Homo sapiens: one gene and its partner. The protein of the gene in region 1 purifies or fractionates together with the protein of each later gene. This does not show direct contact. Each region holds a gene or a part of one and is shown in the gene's direction. Other genes may lie near its edges.

Region 1 (3,917 bases):
TCTCTGGAAACTGTGGCCAGCAGAAGGGCTCACTGAAAGTTATTCTTTTTTTGTGTGTGTGTGCTTCTCTCTTGGTGTCTAGGTTTGACGTGGTGGGCTATGGCTGCATGACCTGCATTGGCAACAGTGGGCCTTTACCTGAACCTGTGGTAGAAGCCATCACACAGGTAATTGCAGAGGTCCCTGCAGGTCTTCAGAGCAGTTGTTTCTTTTCATGTAATGTGACAAAAATGCTGATATTTTCAAGAAGGTCCATGGAAGCAGGGGATGTGGTTTAGAGTATGATCTTTTGAGTTTAGTTAAAATTACTAGCTGGGTAACCTTGGGCAAGTTAATTAACCTATCTGTGCCTGGGTTTTCACAACTGTATATTGGAGATGATAATAGTATCTATTTTATAGAGTTGTGAGAATTAAGATGATGATAAACATAAGTCACTTAGTGCAGTGTCTGGCACTCAAGTGCTCAGTACTGGCTGGTTTTCACTACAAAGGGCTCTACAGTTGTTTGTTATAGGTATTGGGTTAGTGCAAAAGTAACTGTGATTTTTGCCATTTCAGTGATGAAGACCACAATTACTTTTGCACCAACCCAAATAATTTGAAAATTGGTTCAAAGTGAGACAAGTCTCCACACAAACGAATCTAAACTAAATTGCTTTGGCTTGATTTTTATCCCCAAAATGCTGAACCTTGAAAGATATTATTTGGTTTGCTTTGCATTAATTATAGAATCTACGTATTCTATAATTGTGCATTGTGACTTCCTTTAACGATCAACTGTTAGGTCTTTCCCACCTGTTCTTGGGCCCCAGGCAGCAATAACTAGTATGTTGCCTTCTAACTACCTGATATTTTCTCGTGAGCAGAAATCACTAAACATGTCTCTGCTTCCTTTGACCCAGAGTATCTCCCATGGGGACACCCCAGTGTACCCTTCTCCCCTCTAGTGGGAGAGAACCAAGTGAAAGGGCAGCTTAAAGGACTGTATCCTTGCGATGTGGAAACTCTTGCCAATGGTCTGAGACAAGAAGCCTAGTCAGTATCTTTTAGTGACCTGATTTTTCTCTTGCCTTACTCAGGGAGACCTTGTAGCTGTTGGAGTACTATCTGGAAACAGGAATTTTGAAGGTCGAGTTCACCCCAACACCCGGGCCAACTATTTAGCCTCTCCCCCCTTAGTAATAGCATATGCAATTGCTGGAACCATCAGAATCGACTTTGAGAAAGAGCCATTGGGTAAGATTTTGTTTGTGCAGCCATAATTTTTTTCCAGTGAATTCAGAAATATTACTAGAAGAAACTGCTTTCCTTAATAAGAAATGAAGCATAGAGCCTCCAGGGATAAGACAAAGAAGAGAATAATTTCTTTATTCCCCAATATACAGCTAAGACTTAACTGCAGTAGTTAAAACAAGAATCTACTGAGGGTAAAGGATAACGAAAGGAAAACAGGTGCCAAAAGGAATAGACATCTTGCTATTCTGGTTTCTTCTGTAGTTCCTCCCTTTCTAGCTCTCACTTTAATGATAGGCATTGTTTCAATATATACTCTGTAGAAACATACTGCAGATATTTCAACTTCTCAGAATTCCAAAGAAATGATACATCATTTCCTTTCCCCAGATCAGCTTGCTTGCTCTGCCTGCCTCAATCTATTCTAAGCCGAATAGATAATATGAAAACAATGCCTCTGAAATTTACTTTTAGGAAATCATAACTTTAGACGTACAGTTGATCCTCGTTATTTGTGAGTTCTATGTTTGCAGATTTGCGTAGTCACTAAAATGTATTTTAACCCCCAAATCAGTATTTGTAGTATGTTCACGGTCATTCACAGATCAGCACAAAGGGGTGAAAACTTTATATCATTCAACACACACGTTCTATGCTGAGATCTGATAAGGCGTCACTCTGACTTCTTGTTTCAGCTCTCCTGCGATATATAAGGATCCTTTTCTTGGTCTACGTAGTGCCATGCTTTTTGCATTTTTGTGCTTTTTGTGGTGATTTTGCTGTTCAAAATGGTCCTTGAGCATAGTCCTGAAGTGCTTCTGGTGTTCTTGAGCACAAGCCGACTGTGATGCGTACTGTGTTTAGATAGGCTTCGCTGGAAGTTCAATGTCAGTGAGTCAACAATTGCTATTAAATAAGGTGAATAATAAACCTCACATGAAGCAAGGTTATGTATTGATGGGTGACCAGAGGCTTGCAGGAACCTAACCCTGTATTTCCTCCAGTGGCAGTGATTCCGTATCCAGTCATTCAGTGTTCACACGGGCTTTATAGAACATAACTACCGAGGAGAACGAGGCTTGACTCTGTATAATCATGAAAATTGCATATTAGAAAGTTTTCTCATTAATAAACATTTTTTCCCCAGGAGTAAATGCAAAGGGACAGCAGGTATTTCTGAAAGATATCTGGCCGACTAGAGACGAGATCCAGGCAGTGGAGCGTCAGTATGTCATCCCGGGGATGTTTAAGGAAGTCTATCAGAAAATAGAGGTGAGGTCCCACACTGCCCTCCCCGCCCCAGAGGATCTAAGGGAAAGCTGCTCCCTTTGTGTCCTGTCTGCAGACCTCAAGGCTAACGGAAGTATAAACTATATAAAGTAACATTTATTTCTTCAGATGACTGGGGAGGTGGTTCTCCGTCATTTTTCTCCTGTGACTCGCATTTTTACAAACCCCACCTCCCCCAGATGTTCCCAGATTTGGACAAGTTGGTGACAGCCTAGAGAAGAAAGGCCTCCTCAGGTTCAGCTCTCCAAAACCCCACGCCTTTCTCGGACACCCAGGGGTGTGTGTCAGCTGTGGCGAGGACCCCTGGTGGTCACTATATTGTGTCACTAAGTGGAGTCCATTGGTCGAATGCACCTCTCAGAATGCATTTTTGCACACTTAAAAATAAAGAAATTAAGGCCACTCAGTAGGAAGTGCCAAACTACTGAAATAAAACTTTCCGTGCATTTTACAAATAGGAGGAAATGTGTGGGGCTCAGCATTATATTCTGAGACTCTTGGATATTATTCCTTTCCCCGCCTTCTGCATTCAGCTGACCCAAGGGCTTCTGACTGCGGCTGATGGTTTAAATGAGGGTAGAACTGTCTAGGGGAAGGGGTGATGTAGGTGTGATGTTCACACGCTGCACTCTTCACAAGGTGCTCCTTGGGAGATGGTGTTAGGGAGCTTGGCAGGCATTATGTTAAATGCCTTCCTCCAAAGGCCGAGTTAATGGACCTGTGGACAGAATTCAAACCAATTTTAATGCATAGCAGCTGTCATTTGCTACCCAGTGTTTGTGTGACCTGGAAGGCCACTTCCCAAAACACTCAGAGAGTAATTTCCCCTTTGGTACAATCTGGATTATTATTTCATAAGTTATTGATAAGCATATGCATTAGTTATCTATTGCTGTGATATAGCAATAGATATAGTGAGTTGAAACAACAAACATATATTGTCTCCCATTTTCTGTGGGTCAAGAATCCAGGCACAGCTTCACTGTGTACTTTCACAGGGTTCCAGTAAGATGTCATCTGGGGCTGCAGTCTCTGGAGGAGGGTCCACTTAGGCTCACTCATGTGGCTATTGGCAGGATCAAGTTCCTCAAGGGCTGTTGCACTGAGGTCCTCCGTTTCTCACTGGCTGTTCGCTAGAAGCCTCCCTCAGCACCTTGCTATGAGGGTCTCTTCATGACTCACACATGGTAGCTGGCTTCCATCAGAGCAAGAGAGCAAGAGAGTCAGAAGGCAGGTCTCAATAATCTAATCTAGGAGATAGTCACTAGCTTCAGCCCACACTCAACAGGAGGGGGTCAACTAAGGATGTGAATCCCAGGAGGCAGGATCCCTCCTGCCATCCTAGAAGCTGCCTATCACGGTGCATATGTATGTTGTTGTTTGTTTTTCAGA
Region 2 (3,917 bases), on another chromosome or scaffold:
GTGGCTGTTACTACTTTTCAGCTGATTATAGAGCTTCAAATCTGGGTTACAGTGAAACTGTGTGGATGGACTTTTTTTGTTGTTGTTGCCAAATACCTTTTTAATGTGTCTGGTTCTACAGATGGATACACTAGTGAACAGCACAGACACAAACAGTTGATTGGACAAGACAACATAGCATATTAAACATTAGTAAAAATGAGGAAATTACACAGTGCTATGAACTACCCTCATTCTTTTTTCCAACATATTTACTGAATACTCACTTTATGACAGACATCATTCTAAGTGCTGAGGATAAAACAAAGTGCATGTTCTCATGGAGCTCATTTCTCTATATAACTGGTTCACCTGAGGTCTGATTCTGCATTCCAAGATAGCTGGAGTGAAAGATTAGTATGAGGTAAAGAAATAGAGGGTAAATAAGAAAATGCTCTCTGGAGGTTATTAAAAAATATAGAGGCAAAGTCCTGGCAAAAGAACGAGAAACGGGGTGAAAGGGAGAAGGAGGAAGAGAGAAATTAATCTTTATCAAATATTTTATTATTATTCTATTTCTTAAGCCTTATTCCTGCTTCTTAAGACAGACTGTGAATAAGCCATCTCTGTATCCCAACTAATGCAATGACTCTGGGGGTACTGTCAGATCCAGATTTATATGACAGATTTTTGACTTACTAATTTGTGGGACCCTAGGCAACTACTAGAATGTCTTGAAGACTTAATTTCCTGCAGCACTACCTCATAGAGTTGCTTTAAAAAAGTATTACTAGCTTACAGACGGTACTGTTATAAGTGCTTCAAATATATAAATCCTCATAAAGATTCTGAGGTAGGTATTATTAGCTTCATTTCATGTCAGAGCAAACTGAGGCATAAAGAAGTCATATAGCTTGTTAACGGTTGTATAGCTAGTGTCTGGCAAAACCAGGAATCTTAACTTCCAGAGTCTGTGGTTTAACCACTGTTCACACTGTCTATAATAGCATATAGTAATATAAGATTAGAACTAAATAGGGTGCATTCCACTGCAAAGTTCTTTCTCACCTTCTTCTACTCCATTATTTGTTGACTATTTACTGATCCCCATGTTGTCTTGCAACTGTGATAGATAATAGAGAACAAGGGTGAACACAGCATATCTGGTTCTTGCCCTCCTGGAGGTTCTGGCCATTAAGCAAATAACAATTCCTCCCAAGGTTCTCAGGCTTCCCTGTTTTCTCCTATTTCTCTATCTGTCCAGCAGTACTCCAGCCAACCAATCTAAGACTGACCGGCGTGAGCAGAGAACAGAGTCTCCAGGAGGTCTGTGGCCAGGGCCAGGCGATTTATGGGAAAGAGGCAGACATTTTCCTGGGTTAGTGACCTTGTTTTCTCTCCGAACCTCCGCTTAAAATGGCGGGATTTGTACCAAGGTTCTTTCCCGCACCAACCTTCCATTATTCACCCTTCTCCCCACCCCCAAGGCCCGTCGGGCCTATCCCTGACCCGCGTTCCTGCACTTGAGGTGCATTTCCGCACCTGGATCCCCAGATACTGTTTTTCCCCCACGTTGAGTCTCCCGAATTTCACGAGAACTCTCTCTCGCGGTCTCTGCCCCGCCCCTCGCACCCAGGCCCCGCGCCCGCTGTGGGCTGCCGCCCGGGACCGAAGCTCTCAGAGCCCGCAGCTCTGGTTCACCAACCGCTGGGTGGGAGCCAGGCCCGGCCTTTGAGTGGCGGCCGGGGTGGTCTGCGCTCGGCCCCAGGAAAAATCTGGCACGGGCCAATCGCAGGGAGGCGAAGGGCAGCTCCGGAGGTCCTGGCCAGAAGCATTGGTCACCCAGGCCAAGCAGGCGTCGGGGCGTGGGCACAAGCAGAGCTCGCGGCCCTGACCGCGGCCATTGTGCTTGGCTGCCTCTCCTCAAGGCCGTGGTGGGCAGGGCAGCAACGGGAGAAGCGCCGAGAGCGCCACTGCAACGACTTTCCCCTACCCTCAGCTACTGTGCTTTCATGTAGTGAAAGAAACAGGGAAAAGGTTTGGGTTCCTTCTGCGGCTTATGAAGACGACAAAAAACGAAAAGAGTGGGGGCGGGAGGCAGAAGCCGCGAGCCTCTGCGCGCGCCCGGTCACGTGGGCCGCAGGGATCGCATGGCGGCGGCCTGCGCGCCCCCGCGTCCCCGCCGGCCAAGCCGACCGGGCGCGCGCGCCGACGGGGCGGGCGCATGCGCAAGGGGGCGCGCCGCCTCTGCCCCGCGGCGAGGGTGTCTATGGAGAGGCGGCGGCCGCGGCTGCTGAGGCGGAGGCTGAGGCAGTGGCGATGGCGCCCTTTCCTGAAGAAGTGGACGTCTTCACCGCCCCACACTGGCGGATGAAGCAGCTGGTGGGGCTCTACTGCGACAAGGTAACGGAGCGCTGAGCCTCCCGCTGTGGGCGGTGCGGGCGGCGATGGGGAGCGGGCTGGGTTCTTGGGGCGGCCTGGCCTGCGCCGCGCCCGCAGCCCCGTGCCGTCGCCGCGCGAGTAGCCGCCTGCGCAGCTGTCAGCGCCGCCCGCTCCCGCAGCCTGCCCGCCCGCTGCGAGGCCTTCGCAGAGCCGGCCTGGCCGCCGCCTCGGACGTGCTCTCGGGGCGGGCGGCGTCCCCTGCCGAGGGCCTGGCGGCTGAGGAGGGGCGCTACCGGCGTCACTGGCCGCCCTCGGGCCGGCCCCACCGCCGCGCTGGGACTCCCGCTGCTGCCTCTAAGGAGAGCGGCCCTACCTCCTCGAAGCCCTGGGTGCCCCGGCCGGCCACCTGCGGTGGACTCCCATCTGCACCGAGTAGTTGTTCCCGTCCCCCGTCACTCCCCCGGGCCTGTTCGGGGCTCTCCGTGCAGACACCCACCCATCCTCTGCACCTCTCGCTGGCTTCCTGGCTGGAACTGCAGCGTCTCCCAGCTACCCGGTTCCTTTTACCCCCGGCTTTCTTCACTGGTTTGATTTGGGAGAAAAGCCAAGTTTAGAACTGAAGAACCTTCACTCTTCATGTGTCGTTATCGTTTTCCTTGCAACTTTTATTGCCCTGAACACTTACTGGATGTAGATTTTGTTATAAGACAGCAATTCTCTCTTGGATTTCTTTATATGAGCTCGAATAAAGGGGGCCTCAGGAAAAGTTGGTTTAACTGTGAGAACCATTTTGGGCCCATAATTGGTGCAGCATAAGCTGAAGAGGCACTTTTGTGGAGATGGTTCAGGGCCCTTTGCTAGTGATTTTAAAACAATATTAACATTCCACGTATTTGTCAGTTTATGTTGGGGAAAGTCATGGATATCTGCAAACCTCAGGCAGTCCCGTTTCTTGTGGAAATGATCCAACTAAATAAAGCATTCAAATGACTACTGTTTAAGCATAGAAATCAACTTTTAGGAATTCTCAGAAATTGCATAGCATTATGCAGAACCATTGTCTACAGAAAAGAGGGGTGTTTCATAGCTCAGCCAGGCGATTGGAGGATGCCCAGGGTATTCACTGTTAGGCCACACTCAAGACCAGCAATTTAAAGCAGTGACGTTGAATTTCAAATCTTAGCACTCCATCTTCTCCCTCCCTCCATTCTGAAAATTTAGAAACACCCAGTTCACATGAGTTGGAAACACCAGGACTGTCTAGGACAATGGTTTGCAACCTTGGTTGCTTATTAGCCTTAAACTAAAAACTATTAGAAGTCCTGATGTCTAGGTCACTAAAATTAGGATTTCACCCAGACATCAGGTATAAATGATTAAAGCTCTCCATTTGAGTGCAGTATGCAGCTGAGGGTGAGAACCACTCATCTAGGAGAAGCATGAGGAATGGTTAAGCCATTAAGCAAGAGGGTATATCCCTGAATTTTTTACTTAGCAGTATTATAGTGTTTTTATCCTCTCTGGCTTTTGAATATCGTTCATTCAGACACCATTCT

The links.
Region 2: the proteins of ACO1 (region 1) and FBXL5 purify together in Homo sapiens (affinity purification with western blotting; 3 studies listed by BioGRID, with this or other methods). This does not show direct contact.

Annotation. Positions count from the first base shown.
Region 1 is NC_000009.12:32,429,337-32,433,253, forward strand, and holds part of ACO1 (cytoplasmic aconitate hydratase), read left to right. Parts: intron 1-82; coding exon 83-167; intron 168-1,081; coding exon 1,082-1,238; intron 1,239-2,382; coding exon 2,383-2,507; intron 2,508-3,917. UniProt on the Homo sapiens protein: Bifunctional iron sensor that switches between 2 activities depending on iron availability. Iron deprivation, promotes its mRNA binding activity through which it regulates the expression of genes involved in iron uptake, sequestration and utilization.
Region 2 is NC_000004.12:15,653,669-15,657,585, reverse strand, and holds the start of FBXL5 (F-box/LRR-repeat protein 5), read left to right. Parts: upstream 1-2,228; 5' UTR 2,229-2,298; coding exon 2,299-2,382; intron 2,383-3,917.